Homo sapiens: one gene and its partners. The protein of the gene in region 1 purifies or fractionates together with the protein of each later gene. This does not show direct contact. Each region holds a gene or a part of one and is shown in the gene's direction. Other genes may lie near its edges.

Region 1 (3,500 bases):
AAGGCACATGGAAAGGGCTCAGTAAATGGTAGAAATTACTGTTATTACATTTAGAGCTCATAGATGCAAACTTTGGGATGAGATAGGGAAAGGAACCAAGAAGATAATAAACCATTTTGTTGGTTTCTAATGGCATGGGCAGACTGTGTGGAGATACTAAAGCCCTGTGTTATTCTTTCATGACACTTTCTGCAAAATGTGATCTATCTTCCTGTACTGAGACATTAATTGAAAAATTTCTGAAGAACAAGAGTCTTATTTCATGTAGTTATTTGAGCACTATAAAATTGTGTCAAGGAGAATTTCTGTGATCTTGATGACTGTATTTTAGTATGATATTTGAAGAGCACGGGCTGGCACTATTTTTTCTTTTTTCATTTCACTACTCTCTGCTTCTAAGGAGTAGGGTATGAGTTTTTTAAAAAATAAAATTTGAAATTAAAACTTATCTGTCTTCTTATGGCCTCTTTTTTCTAAAAGTTTTTGTTTTTCAAGATTCCATAGAAATTGAGGATTTATAAACTTCCTTATATTTGGAAGAAAAAGCTATGGAACCTTAACATAGTACGTAGTAGTATGTAGTAGAAAACTGTTTATAAACTTGATTCTAACTATCATTTGCTTACAGAAATTAGTAACTGTTACAAAGATTATATTGTAAATAGAGATGAGGTTGAGTATCCCATTTCCCAAATGCTTGGGACCAGAAGTGTTTTGGATTTTGGAATTTTTTGGATTTTGGAATATTTGCATTATACTTAGTTATTGAACATCTGAAATTGAAAATGCTCTAGTGATCATTTCCTTTGAACATCATGTCATGTTAGCACTCAGAAAGTTTCAGATTTTGGAGCATTTCAGATTAGATTTTCAGATTTGGGATGTGTAACCTATAGGTAATCATGTTGTGTATTTAGTCTGAGTCATTCTTCCATCGTGTACTTGTTGTATTCCTTCCACTCAGTCCAGCACTGTACACATTTAACAGTTACTTCCTTGCCTGAAAAAGCTTCACTACTTTAAATTTATTTTCTCTTTTAAAAATAGTATTATTTGACATATAAATGAAGATATGTAATATCCTTCACAATATTTTATCTTTGGGTTTCTCTTTTTTTGTTGTTGTTGTTTTGTTTGTGTTTTGTTTTGTTTTGAGATGGAGTCCCTCTCTGTCGCCCAGGCTGCAGTGCTGTGGCGCAATCTCGGCTCACTGCAACCTCCGCCTCCCAGGTTCAAGCAATTCTCCTGCCTCAGCCTCCGGAGTAGTTGGGATTACAGGCACGCACCACCGTGCCGGGCTAATTTTTTGTATTTTTAGTAGAGACGGGGTTTCACCATGTTTGCCAGGGTGGTCTTTCCTGACCTCAGGTGATCCGCCTGCCTTGGCCTCCCAAAGTGTTGGGATTAGAGGCATGAGCCACTGCCCCTCACCCCCTGCTGGATTTCTCTTGTTTTTAACAGAAAAAAAAGAATGACATAAGATTATGAATTGAATTGCATTTCTAGAAAGCTATTTTATCTATTAAACCAGTTGAAACTAAACTCTTGGCTGTGTGCTGGATGAAAGTAGTTTTTATATGACAACTGATGGCTGTGTGCCTTTTAAAAAATAGTAAAATATATAATCTTTGTATTAAAAAGTATGGAAACATATACATTTAGCAGATAATAAAGTGAATTATTATTAACAACTGTCAGTGTCAAGGAATTCTGCTAACATCCGAGAATCCCTCTTGCCTCCTTTCTGTATCTAATATCTTCTCTCTCCCTAAAGGAAACCACTATCCTATCTTTAAGTTATTCATTTATTTGCTTTTCTTAATCATTTACTATCTAGGATTATATCCCTAAATGTTATAAATTTAGTTTTGTATGCACTTGAACTTTATATGAATGGAATCATATTGAACATATTCTTTTGTGTCTTGCCTCTTTCAAAGTCAGTATTGTGTTTGTGAGGTTCATCTTTATCACATAGAGCTGTAGTTCTTTTTCGTTGTAGCATTGTATTCTATTATATGATGATATCACCAATTATTTACTATTGTACAATTAATGGATATATTGGTTGCTTCCAGTTTTTGGCTCTTACACAAAACGGTAGTTGCACATATACATGAGTTTCACTAAGAGTTAATCCAGGAATGGAATTGCTAGGTTATAGGGTAGTGTATCTTTAATTTTACCAGATGATGCCAAACTAATTATACAAGTTTACATTCCCACCAGCAGTTGAAGAATTTCCTTGCCCTGCCAGGCGCGGTGGCTCATGCCTGTATTCCCAGCACTTTGGGAGGCCGAGGCGGGCGGATCACGAAGTCAGGAGATCGAGACCATCCTGGCTAACACGGTGAAACCCCGTCTCTACTAAAAATACAAAAAATTAGCCGGGCGTGGTGGCAGGAGCCTGTAGTCCCAGCTACTCGGGAGGCTGAGGCAGGAGAATGGCGTGAACCCGGGAGGAGGAGCTTGCAGTGAGCCGGGATCGCACCACTGCACTCCAGCCTGGGCGAAAGAGCAAGACTCCGTCTCAAAAAAAAAAAAAAATTTCCTTGCTCTGCATCTTTGCTAACATTTAATATTGTCAGAATTTTAAAGTTTTGACAGGCTGATAATGTGTTACATTTCTCATTGTGCATTTAATTCACCTTTCACAGATTACTAAAAGTAATTCTTTTAATATGTTTTTGGTAATTTGAATTTCTTCTTTTGTGTTCAAGTCTCTTATCCATTTTTCTCTTGAAGTCTTTGTTTGTATGTTGATTGTGTGTGTGTACAATATATGTGTTTTGAATTTTAACCATTTGCTGGTGATAGTTATTGCTAATATAGTCTCATTCTGAGACCTGTCTTTTCATTCTCACTGTAGTGTCTTTTTATGAATTCTTTAACATGGTCCAATTTGTTAGTTTTTTCCTTTACAGTTGATGCTTTTTGTGTTATGTTTAAGACATTTCTTCCTAATGTGTGATCATGAAGATAATCTTCTATATTATCTTCTAAAAGCTTTATGATTTTGCTTTTCTTTAACAATTAGATCTATAATCTACCTAGAATAGATGTTTGTAAATGGTATGAGGTAGGGGTCCAGTTTCATTTTTTTCCCCATATGGATACACAATTGTCCCAGAACTATTTGCTGGGAAGAAAAATAATTCCCCACTGCTCTGCAGTGCCCTGTTATGTAGCATGTGTCTGTTTCTGCATTCTCCGTTCTCTTCATTGATCTATTTGTCTATTCCTATACCAGTATCCCACTGTCTTAATTAGGAAAGAATTAAAATAAATTTCTGCTGCTTCTTCAACATAGTTTAGTAGTATTGTTGGCCCTTAGGGCTTCTATGTACATTTTCCAGTTAGCCTGGTTGAGTGCCACAAAAAATCTGTGTTTTTTTGGAGAGATTTCATTGAATTTATAAATCAGTTTTGGAAAAATTAACCTCTCTTTGATATTGAGTCTTCCCACCTGTGCATGTTTTATCTCTGTTTAGGTCTTTTTT
Region 2 (4,063 bases), on another chromosome or scaffold:
AGAGGAGTTTGTGAACAGGCAGCAGATGCACCTCATTGTCCAGATGTAGTGTTCTGGAAAGTTGCATTTCCTTGACACTATCTGGGAGGTCTGACAGTTTATCTGCTGAGAAAGGAACTCAGGTAAAATGCACGCAAGTTTCTCAAGTTTCACTTCGAAGGGAAAATTTGGCCGGTTTCGGTCTTCCCTTTCTATTTATCAATTCCTCAATCATGCGGAATCTGGTAGTTGATCTTTCTGGCTGCTTCACGTGAAGGAAGGGCATCTTGGGATGATATGGAATGAAAATATCGCACCTGTAATTGCAAGTACTTACGAGTACCTGGTTGGCATCCAGCTTGTTGGAGCACCATGATTTGGGTACTTTCATCAACATTTTAAACCACATTGAATTAGGATAATTAATAACATGGATAAGAAGGTTTCTTTGTAGGTTGTAATAACCCAGTTAAGAGTTTGTACCATTCGGCCGGGCGCAGTGGCTCACGCCTGTAATCCTAGCACTTTGGGAGGCCTAGGTGAGCGGATCACGAGGTCAGGAGATGGAGACCATCTTTGCTAACACGGTGAAATCCCATCTCTACTAAAAATACAAGAAGATTAGCCGGGCATGGTGGCGGGGGCCTGTAGTCCCGGCTACTAGGGAGGCTGAGGCAGGAGAATGGCGTGAACCCGGGAGGCGGAGATTGCAGTGTCGCTCTGGCGACAGAGCGAGACTCCGTCTCAGGAAAAAAAAAAAAAGAGTTTGTACCATTTGAGGGCAAAAGCTTCAGTATGAAATTCCCGTTTCTCTCAAGTAAACCGCCTGTCCTGTGTTACTCACTTTGTTTTACCTGGAGGCAGCAAAACTGAATAGTTTTCCTGAGTGCTCATGAGTAGGAAAAAATGAAATGAAGAGTTGCCCAGAGATCGCTAGTGAGGTGCTTTGCCACTACTGCCCTGTACTTAAGTAACTGTGAGGGTTCTCTGTTTCCTGGCTTCTAAAACAAGAGGAAGAGCTGAAGACACAGTTTCATAGACTTTTCGGCTCTTTATTGTAGTCTCCCCCATTAGTACGTTGCTGAGCTTAGGGCAAGTGCTCAATAATAGCTTGCTGAATTAGTGTTGTGTTTGATCCTTTCAGATCCACGCCGCATTTTGAGCCCGACCTGGGCGGGCGGTCCAGAGACCAGTTTTCCGCCGGGGGCGGAGCTTCGGGCGGCCAGCGCGCGACGGGGCAGCGGGGCGGAGCTTGCCGCCGGCGGAGGGCGGGGTCTGCGCGGGGACTTCCCCCGGGCTGAGCTGCGCAGCGGGTGCGGAGGGCGGGCGCCCGGCGTCCGGCGGCGGGTGGGGGGCTGTGAGGCTGGCAGGGGTCGGCGGGCGCGTAGCCGCCGACCCTTGGTGGTCTCTTGGGCTGGGGACCCTTCCCTGGGAGTCGGCCCCGGCCCCGGCGGGGCGGGCGTTGCCGGGAGGCGGAGGGGTGCGCGGCCGCGAGTCCTGCGTGATCGCGAGCATGTGTGCGTGCGCGTGTTTATCTGAGGCGCGTGCGGCGGCCACCCCAGCCTAGTCCTCTTCTTGGTGCCACTGGCTAACTAGGTTGAGAAACCGGCGCCACAGGCGGCACACCTGGCCCGGAGCTGGCCCGCTCCTCCCCGCCGAGCCGGCGCCCCAACAACGCGCCCTCTCCCAGTCCTCACAAAGGGGCCTAGTCCGGCCCCCGGCTCTGGCCGTGAGGGAGCGCTGTGGGGGCGCGCTGCCTTCTGCCTGGAAGTGTTGGGCAGGTGGTGGGAGAGCGTCAGGCTTGAACAACATGATTTTAAAGCACGTGTCTGTCTGTCGTTTTTTACTTTTAGGGTTTTGGCCAAATTGGGCGAGGGCACAAAATAACCACTTACCCCTTCTCACCGAGGAAGAGCGGGAGAAAGGGTAAGTAAGGAATGGTCAGGGGTGGAAGGACCTAGGACTTTATCCTGAGAGCGAGCGAGAGAGAGAAGGGCTAGATGTCCAGAACTGCTCGTGGGGAACTTGGGCCCAGATTCTACCTTTTCATCGGGAACTGGAGGACCCACCTTCAAAGTCACAGGCTCCAGGCCCCGGACTGTTTTCAGCCTCACACAGTCTATAGAGTTTAACAGCTTGGGCATGTGGATCCCTTTTAGCCCCTTGACCCGACAGAAAACTGCACTTCCCCTTTACCTGTTTTTACCTTGGAACATTGGTCCTCTCTAGTTGTCTGTCTCCGGCCCCTATCTTATTAGCCAGCTTTGACTAATCCCTGAGACCATAGCACTAAAGAATCCAGGTCCTGTTTGATAATGAACAGTAACCCCCCTAGGGATGTTTACATTTTAAAAGGGTACTCCTGAAAAAATCCTTTAGGACCCCAAAGCATAAAGTTAGTAACAAGATTACAAGTGTTGAAGTTCTTTGGGATCTCTCAAGCTTACAGAAGAAGATGTTTTGAGGGGAGAGAGATGACCAGGCTGGGCCTTTTTCTCTGGGCTTTCACTCTTGGTACCTCCTGGCAAGCATTCCATTCACTTTTGAAAAGTTGCCAAAAAGGACACTGAAGTTCTCTGAGGCTTACTGTGATTTTCAGTGTGGTCTATTTCATTGGTTCTTCTGTGGGACTTTTCTATCACTTCTTTAATACACTGCTTCCCTCTCCCCTGTATGGTGAAATGAAACACAGCTCCTCTCACAAGGTTGGGAGCTCATTATGCATCCTATATGTCACATATAAATAACCGTTTTAAATTAGTTGAAATTCAGATTAGCTACAAGCAGGAATGTAGTAAAACTGCATTCTTGGATTCTTACACAGGAAAAGTAGAATTGCCCTCTGTGATAGGCTGCCTATTCTGATACTGGCTGCCTGTGTCCTGAACGTGCCTATTTGTTTGTGCTCAAGTGATAGGTGACCACATAATTTATGGAAAACAGGAAGTGATTGTTTATTGATAATGGGTTCCTTCATTGATTCAATAGCTAATTCTCTCTTACCATGTGCTACGCACTTTTATCAGCACTTTGATAAAAGTAGGATGGTGAGAATGATGAGATTGTATTGGAGATGGCTGTTTTGGGGTAGGCCTTTCACCAGTTTTGTGGATTTTCTCAATAGTTACATGTTAATTTACAAGACTTTCCCTGTACTACTGATCATAGTGGTTTGCAGGTCTATACAGTGTTGTGGGAGAACAGAATTATTATTCCGCCTTTCTAGTACTTTCAGTAATAAACTTACAAGGATGGCTGACCTTGATGATTTGTTTCCTATAATGAATAATGTTATAGTCATTTTCCAGTGTACGAGTATAATAATTAGATGAGGATAACTTTTGTAGTTGTTCCATAAGAAGGACCTAATATTAGGAATCATGGAGAGTGTAAAGGATGATGTACTTAGAAAAATAAATTCGAAAGTAGACCATTTTTAACTTGCATGGGTTTCTGTGCATTTAGCCTCATTTAAAAGATCTAAGCTAGAATAGTTCTTTGTCTTTTTCTGGTTATAAGAGTAATAAAAAGTCAAAAAAAAGTTATTTAGAATTAAATCTGGGAGGGTATAAAAGGCAATAAGTGAGTTTCCTATGAGTCCACTTTCAGATGACCACTTAACAATTTGATACTTGTTTCTTCAACTTTTTGTTCCATATATACACATACTAAATATGCAGCTTAAGTATATGTTAAACATGTATACATCTTAACTGCGTATTATATATGGAACATATGTGGAACATAATACATGTTTTATATATATATATTTCACTGTTATTTGATAAAATTGTAAATTTCTTTCTTTTTCTCCTTCTTCTTGGCTATTTACCACCCCTCCTCACTCCACCCCACAACTTCATGTAGAAGTAGCATGACTTTTACAGTCTTTTGGACATGAGCTTGATTTCTGGCTCTTATTTTATTAGCTGTGTCACTTTGGGCCATTAAAATTTCTCTGCTGCTTGATTTCTTATCCATCAAAACAGAACAAAGAGTATATATAAAAGAATGTGTGAAAAAACAGTGCCTGGCATAGAAGTACTTACTTTTAAATTTCCCTCCCTGTTTTTCTATGTGGTCA
Region 3 (3,500 bases), on another chromosome or scaffold:
GCCAGTTCCTCTTCTTTGCCTCTTCACATCTAACATTCAATTTCAGCAAAAAGTGGATGACTGTGAGCGGTGCCGGGAATTTTTCAACAAAGAAGGGCGTGTAAAAGGCATAAGCTCAACCAAGGAGGTTTTAGATGAGGACACGGATGAAGAGAAAGAGACGCTCAAGAACCAGCTGAGAGAAATGGAGCTAGAACTGGCACAGACCAAACTCCAGCTGGTGGAGGCCGAGTGTAAGATACAGGTAACAGCAGCAGAGCTCAGACATGTGCCTGCGGGCTGGGTTTCCTGATGTGCACTAGAGACCCCAGAAATTATCTTTATGGTTTGGGGTTTTTCCACACCTTTTAAACTTTGGTCACAGTTGTCATGAGAAGAAATATAGGACTTGTTACTGGCCAGTGGATGTCTCATCAGTATTTGGCCTGTCTTGAGGATTTCCGCTGTCATATTGAGAATAATACACAAAAGCTTGGAATCTTTTGATGGGATGAGAAGACAGTGCTTTAGAAACACAGCTCTACCACTGAACTGTTTGACCTTGGGTTAGTAACCTCCCTACATCTCAGGTTCCTTATCTACAAATGGAAATGATGAGAGTCCCTATCTGATAGGTTGGTTTGAGGACTAAGTAAGATAGTGTGCACAAATGGCTTGGCAGAATGTCGGGGGCTTTATAAATGCAAGCTTTTGTTCTTCCAGTTCCCACCACTTAACTAGCTTTGTGACTGTTAATATACTACCTATCTGAGCCTCCTTTCCTGATAAAGAAGTTAGGGCTTGTTTTGGTCATCTTAATACACATTGCTAGGTCCACCAGCACCACTAAACCCTAAGCACTGTTTATGGAGGGAACAAGTTCAGGATAAAAGCTTTAGGGCTGATTCTCCCTCATGGCACACATTCACTGGGCATCTGCTCTTTGGCAGGCCCTGTTATAGGTCTGGGACTGCAAAGCTAAGGCCTGGTAGTGTGACTACCCGGAATAATCAGGAAAGGCATCACCAAGGCAGCAGTAGCTGTGCTGTGATCAAAGAATGCACAGGGCTTGTAGCTACAGGAGAGAGAGAACAGTGGCAATTCCAGGCAGAGGGAGTGGCATGTTCAGCAGCACAAGGAGGAGAGTGGCTGCCCAGGAAGGACCCTCAGGAGTTCTTTCCTTGCAGTAGGGGATGGAGGTGGTGCTAAGGCTGGAAGAGAGTGTGTGGATCCAGATTGCGAAGCATTTCAAATGCCATGCTAGGGAGTTTAAAGATTTTTGCCAAAATGAAATGATGTCACCAGAAATAGAGCATTACCTGTCTGCCTGGTGTGCATTAGGTGGACAGAAGAGGGAGACATAGCAAGTAGAAGACTGTTTTAATAAATAGACCAGGCAAGAAATTAGATCTTAACTAAAAGCTCCCAAATCTTTAGGCATTTCAGGCATTTCTATGCCAGTTGGAGACTGGGGGAATTCCCCGAGGCCTCTCCAGAGTAAATAGACTGCATTCTTGTCTTGGTTCTCCTCTGGGGAGCCAGTGTCATTGACACCAAGCCCAGCATCCTCATGCACACTGTTCCTCTTGCAGGACTTGGAACACCATTTAGGGCTTGCCCTCAATGAGGTGCAGGCAGCCAAGAAGACGTGGTTTAACCGAACACTGAGCTCCATAAAGACAGCAACCGGGGTTCAAGGGAAAGAGACTTGCTGAGAGCAGCTGCCGCCTCCCGACACCTTCAGAAAACACGACACCTTTTGTTGCCTTCTTTGGCCAGATGTGTGATTCTGTGACTTGTCCCAGGACCAGAATGTACCTAAGTCAGATCCATAGACGCATGTTGGTAGGTCACTGGACCAGAGCTTGTGAAGCAGGCAACCTCTGGGGTAAGACTACTGATACTAACAGGCCTGCTAGCTCAGCCGACGCTCTGGACACTCTAGAAATCACTCCTCAGTGTGACCTCCCAGGCCTCTTCCCCGTGTACGTCAACACCTCACCCAGCCTAAAGGCTGAGTTTACATGATCAGAGTTAGGGGATCCTTCAGTCTGTTGATTTTTTTTCTAAACCTTTTTTTTTTAATATACATATATATATATATATATATATATATATATATATATATATATATATATAGTGGGGGTGGGGCAAGGGATCAGAAATTCAAATAATTCTTTTCTGCTTCAATGCCAGCAGAAGGTCCCCCAGGTAGACATGGAGAAGCACTTTGTTTTAAATAGGAGGGTTTCATAGTTGCATCTGAAGCCACCTGGTTCTGTTAAACTGTATGGTGCAGGTTTTGGGTTTGGCATTATTCATGTTTCTGATCAATTCTATGCAACTCTCATAGTTCCTGTTACTTTTTAGCATTAGCTGCCAAATGACTTCAAAAGGCTGGGGTGGGTGACTTGACTGTGAGACTGGATTATAACATGGACAAATCTTATTTTGCTTAATGTGTTTGTGTGTGTGTGTGTGTGTGTGTGTGTGTGTGTATGTATATATATATATAAATATCTTTCCCAATATGCCCCGTTGACAGTGTTTAAATTCCAGACTAGGACTGCTGATCTGCACAATTTAATTATGTGGTTATTCGAGCACTTAATTTCACTCAAGGTTCATTGGGCTCTGCTCTCCTCCCTGCCATTACGGGAGCTGTGGACAGAGCTCCCTCACTTCAAGATTCCTAGTGTTTTTGCACAACAGGTTGTCCAAGTGAGAAAGACTGAGTTGCGTGTCTGTAAATGTCTGCGCAGGGTGCACATGCTGCGAGGTCTCCATCCTCCGGGCCTGTCCCTCCCAGATGGGCTGGGCCTTTGGGCCCTCCTCAGAGTATGCCTGGGTACAAACCTCACTGTTCAGATGGGCTGTAAGTTCTCACTTCAAAGCTATGGAATGGATTTTAGCACCTTTAAAAAAAAAAAAAACTTTGACTTTTAATTTATATAGTGATATGCTGACAGGCTGACACGCAGATGGTTTTGTCCTCTTTTCTGCGTTCAGTGTTGAGGCGGCTGCTTACAAGAGGCACTGGTTTTGTATATAAAGACACTCGGGTTGTTTTGTAGCTCTTTTTCTTATTGGCTGTACTAACGCTTGCTGAGGTTATCTGTAATAAGGGAGGTAACAAGTGGCAACCCCCTCCCCACCAACCATCCCCTTTGCTGCTTTCTGTGTCTTTCTTGTTCAGTTACCAAAATAGCTGTAAGCCTATCTAATGCTAGGTGTGTGGACATTGTGCTAAGGTAGTTTCAGTGTGTCAACTTTATGAATTGAAATATAAACCAGTAAAATTGTATTACTGTTTCTTTTGTTGGTTTTATTTTAACAGCATATTGATTAAATATTTTGGTACAAACAAACAGCATTGCTTTGTAAAAACCAGTTTTGTCATCACCTACTCCTGTCGCCTCCCCTTCTTCCCTCATCCCCTGCGCACAGAAGCAGTCAGAGAAGACCACTGTGTGTGCTGTAAGAGAGGCATGTGTGAGCGCGAGGCAGCCCCTCACCCACCT
Region 4 (2,699 bases), on another chromosome or scaffold:
TCTGCCATTGAACACAAAAGCAGCCTTAAGCATGACAAAAACAAATGAGCATCACTGTTTCAATAAAATTTTATTTATAAAACAGGCATGGGCCAATCCTTGAGCTCAAACTTCCTAAGTTTACATTTTGCATCTTATAGAAAAAAAGCGACAATTTGAAATGAAAAGGAAGCTTCACTACAATGAAGGACTCAATATCAAACTAGCCAGACAATTAATTTCAAAAGACCTACATGATGATGATGAAGATGAAGAAATGTTAGAGACTGCAGATGGAGAAAGCATGAATACGGAAGAATCAAATCAAGGTTAGATGTTTGGAAAATGTCACTGAGACTTTTGTAATGGTCTATGCCTAAGATAATGTACTTTATTTTGCTTTAAACTTGTGAAAAAACAGAAAATTTTGCTGAGATTCGCTTTATTATACCAAATGTTTCTAAAGTTTTAACCCGCATGGCCAATTTCAGAATAATAAAGTTTTTATACCTAGAGTTGATTTGATTTTAGACCATATGTTTTATTATATGGCTTTCTTATGGTTTACTTGCCTTTAGGCAAGGATGTTTGTCTTCATATTAAGCTATATTTTGTTTTGAATATTTTAGGTCATGTTGTATTTGTCATAACGATCTAAAATTTAAAATTTTTAAATGAAACTTTTTTTTTTTTTTTGAGACAGAGTCTCGCTCTGTCACCCAGGCTGGAGTGCAGTGGCGTGATCTCGGCTCACTGCAAGCTCCGCCTCCTGGGTTCCCGCCATTCTCCTGCCTCAGCCTCCCGAGTAGCTGGGATTACAGGCGCCTGCCACCACGCCTGGCTGATTTTTTGTATTTTTAGTAGAGATGGGGTTTCACCATGTTAGCCAGGATGGTCCCAATCTCCTGACCTTGTGATCCGCCCGCCTCGGCCTCCCAAAGTGCTGGGATTACAGGCATGAGCCACCGCGCCCAGCCTGAAACATGTTTTTAGTATGGAAGATTTGGTTTTACATCCCGTTAGATACAAAGTATGTCATATCTTTCCAATACGGATTCTTTTGACTGTTGGATTGACAAGTTATTTAACTGTTTTTGTTTTTATTTTTTTTTTAAGTCTTAGACACCCAGCCCCTGCAGCCTAGCAACTCCTGATCTGTCATAGGAAATAGGTTTTATTTATTTTTTATGAACTGTTACTCTGGTATTTAATGAAGTGAATCTTCTGCATCACTAATGGAGATTTTTTGTGCCCACCACCTACTCCTTGTACTTACAAACTTCATACTTTTCAGTGGAGGCGTAACTGATGTTATTTGTGGTGCCCAGAATGGTTAAGTCTTAGGAAATTAAATAATTATTGTATTACCATTTTGGTAAGCATAGTATTAAATATGAATAATTCTATGATACAGCCTGATGAGTTGCTGTCTCATAGTGTCAGGATTACAGTACTTTTTGTTATTCCGTAATATGCTTCAACCTTTTAGTCTATTTCATATAGCCTTTCATTTCCATTATATATCCCATAGTCTGTTTAACTTATATTTAACTTGAGCAAACTTCATCTTACATAGTAGCTGTGGCATGTTTTTATTATCCATTTTTATTTTTATTTTATTTTTTGTTATAGAGGCAGCGTTTTTTGTTTGTTTGTTTTAACGCCATTTCTTTTGAAAAATAACTATGGCATTTTGTCCGTCTCTGCTTATAAGATATTACATTTCACATATTTAGTACATAAATATATTTTTTGTTTAAGTTTAATGGAGGATTAAAATTTTGTATTAGGTCAGTGCCTGATTTTTCTTCACTGGAGATGAAGTACACCTTGCAAAGGAGTATATCCTGCTTAGCATTATAAAACCCACAAGAATAGGATAAGACTTAGGGAAATAAGTACCTTATTTACCCCCTACCCTTTTTGGGCCCTTAACATTTTACCAGCTTTTCAGATCTCTAAGTTCTATAGAACCCATTAGTTTTGGGACAGTGCCAGTCTCCTCCCTTCCCCCTTTCCTCCCCCATTCACACAATTCATTGGAGAAAATGACATGTTTGGACTCTTAGGTGATATTTTATAGCTTTCAGGTAATAAATATGTATCTTTTTATAGCTCTGGATATTGGAGTTGTCGTAAACTCTTACCTTTCCACCTGTGACTTACAGAAATGTTCAATCTGAAACCTGTTTGTTTTATCAGCAAGTAGACACTTCTGTTCTTTAGACTATTTAGGGGAGTGTATAGATTCTTCAATTTCAGTCTAAATCAGCCTACATGAAATATACCTTATTTGTTTTTAAAATTTTTATATTTGCTTGTCATGCATGCTAATAGAAGGGAACTTTAGCCAGGGTTGACAACATATAACAAATTATGTTGACTTTTTCTTTTATCTTTGCAGGATCTACTCCAAGTGACCAACAGCAAAACAAATTACGAAGTTCATAGACGAGATTTGTTCAACACTGCAATTGTTTGTTAGATGTAAACCCTGTGACTATAGTACGTTGCTTCTTGTTCTTCACAATTCATGACTTAAGTACCAAAATGCATACCAGTTATTATATATTGCCAAGAATTAAATGATAAACTTAGAGACTGATTAGACTGAAAATGCCTAATCGATATATATATTCTTGTGCCTAGTACTTTACCACAAATACAGTGTAATATCATCAGTCCAAAACTGCATTACTTTTGTAAAAACACTGGTTAAT

Evidence for each region. Proteins that work in one complex are often made in the same cells at the same time.
Region 2: the proteins of SLK (region 1) and IMMP2L purify together in Homo sapiens (co-immunoprecipitation; one large-scale study listed by IntAct). This does not show direct contact.
Region 3: the proteins of SLK (region 1) and RABGAP1 fractionate together in Homo sapiens (co-fractionation; one large-scale study listed by BioGRID). This does not show direct contact.
Region 4: the proteins of SLK (region 1) and PPP1R2 fractionate together in Homo sapiens (co-fractionation; one large-scale study listed by BioGRID). This does not show direct contact.

What each region holds. Positions count from the first base shown.
Region 1 is NC_000010.11:103,970,140-103,973,639, forward strand, and holds part of SLK (STE20-like serine/threonine-protein kinase), read left to right. Parts: intron 1-3,500. UniProt on the Homo sapiens protein: Mediates apoptosis and actin stress fiber dissolution.
Region 2 is NC_000007.14:111,559,693-111,563,755, reverse strand, and holds the start of IMMP2L (mitochondrial inner membrane protease subunit 2), read left to right. Parts: upstream 1-1,263; 5' UTR 1,264-1,905; intron 1,906-4,063. UniProt on the Homo sapiens protein: Catalyzes the removal of transit peptides required for the targeting of proteins from the mitochondrial matrix, across the inner membrane, into the inter-membrane space. Known to process the nuclear encoded protein DIABLO.
Region 3 is NC_000009.12:123,101,520-123,105,019, forward strand, and holds the end of RABGAP1 (rab GTPase-activating protein 1), read left to right. Parts: intron 1-46; coding exon 47-244; intron 245-1,571; coding exon 1,572-1,694; 3' UTR 1,695-3,347; downstream 3,348-3,500. UniProt on the Homo sapiens protein: May act as a GTPase-activating protein of RAB6A. May play a role in microtubule nucleation by centrosome. May participate in a RAB6A-mediated pathway involved in the metaphase-anaphase transition.
Region 4 is NC_000003.12:195,516,627-195,519,325, reverse strand, and holds part of PPP1R2 (protein phosphatase inhibitor 2), read left to right. Parts: intron 1-140; coding exon 141-308; intron 309-2,383; coding exon 2,384-2,430; 3' UTR 2,431-2,699. UniProt on the Homo sapiens protein: Inhibitor of protein-phosphatase 1.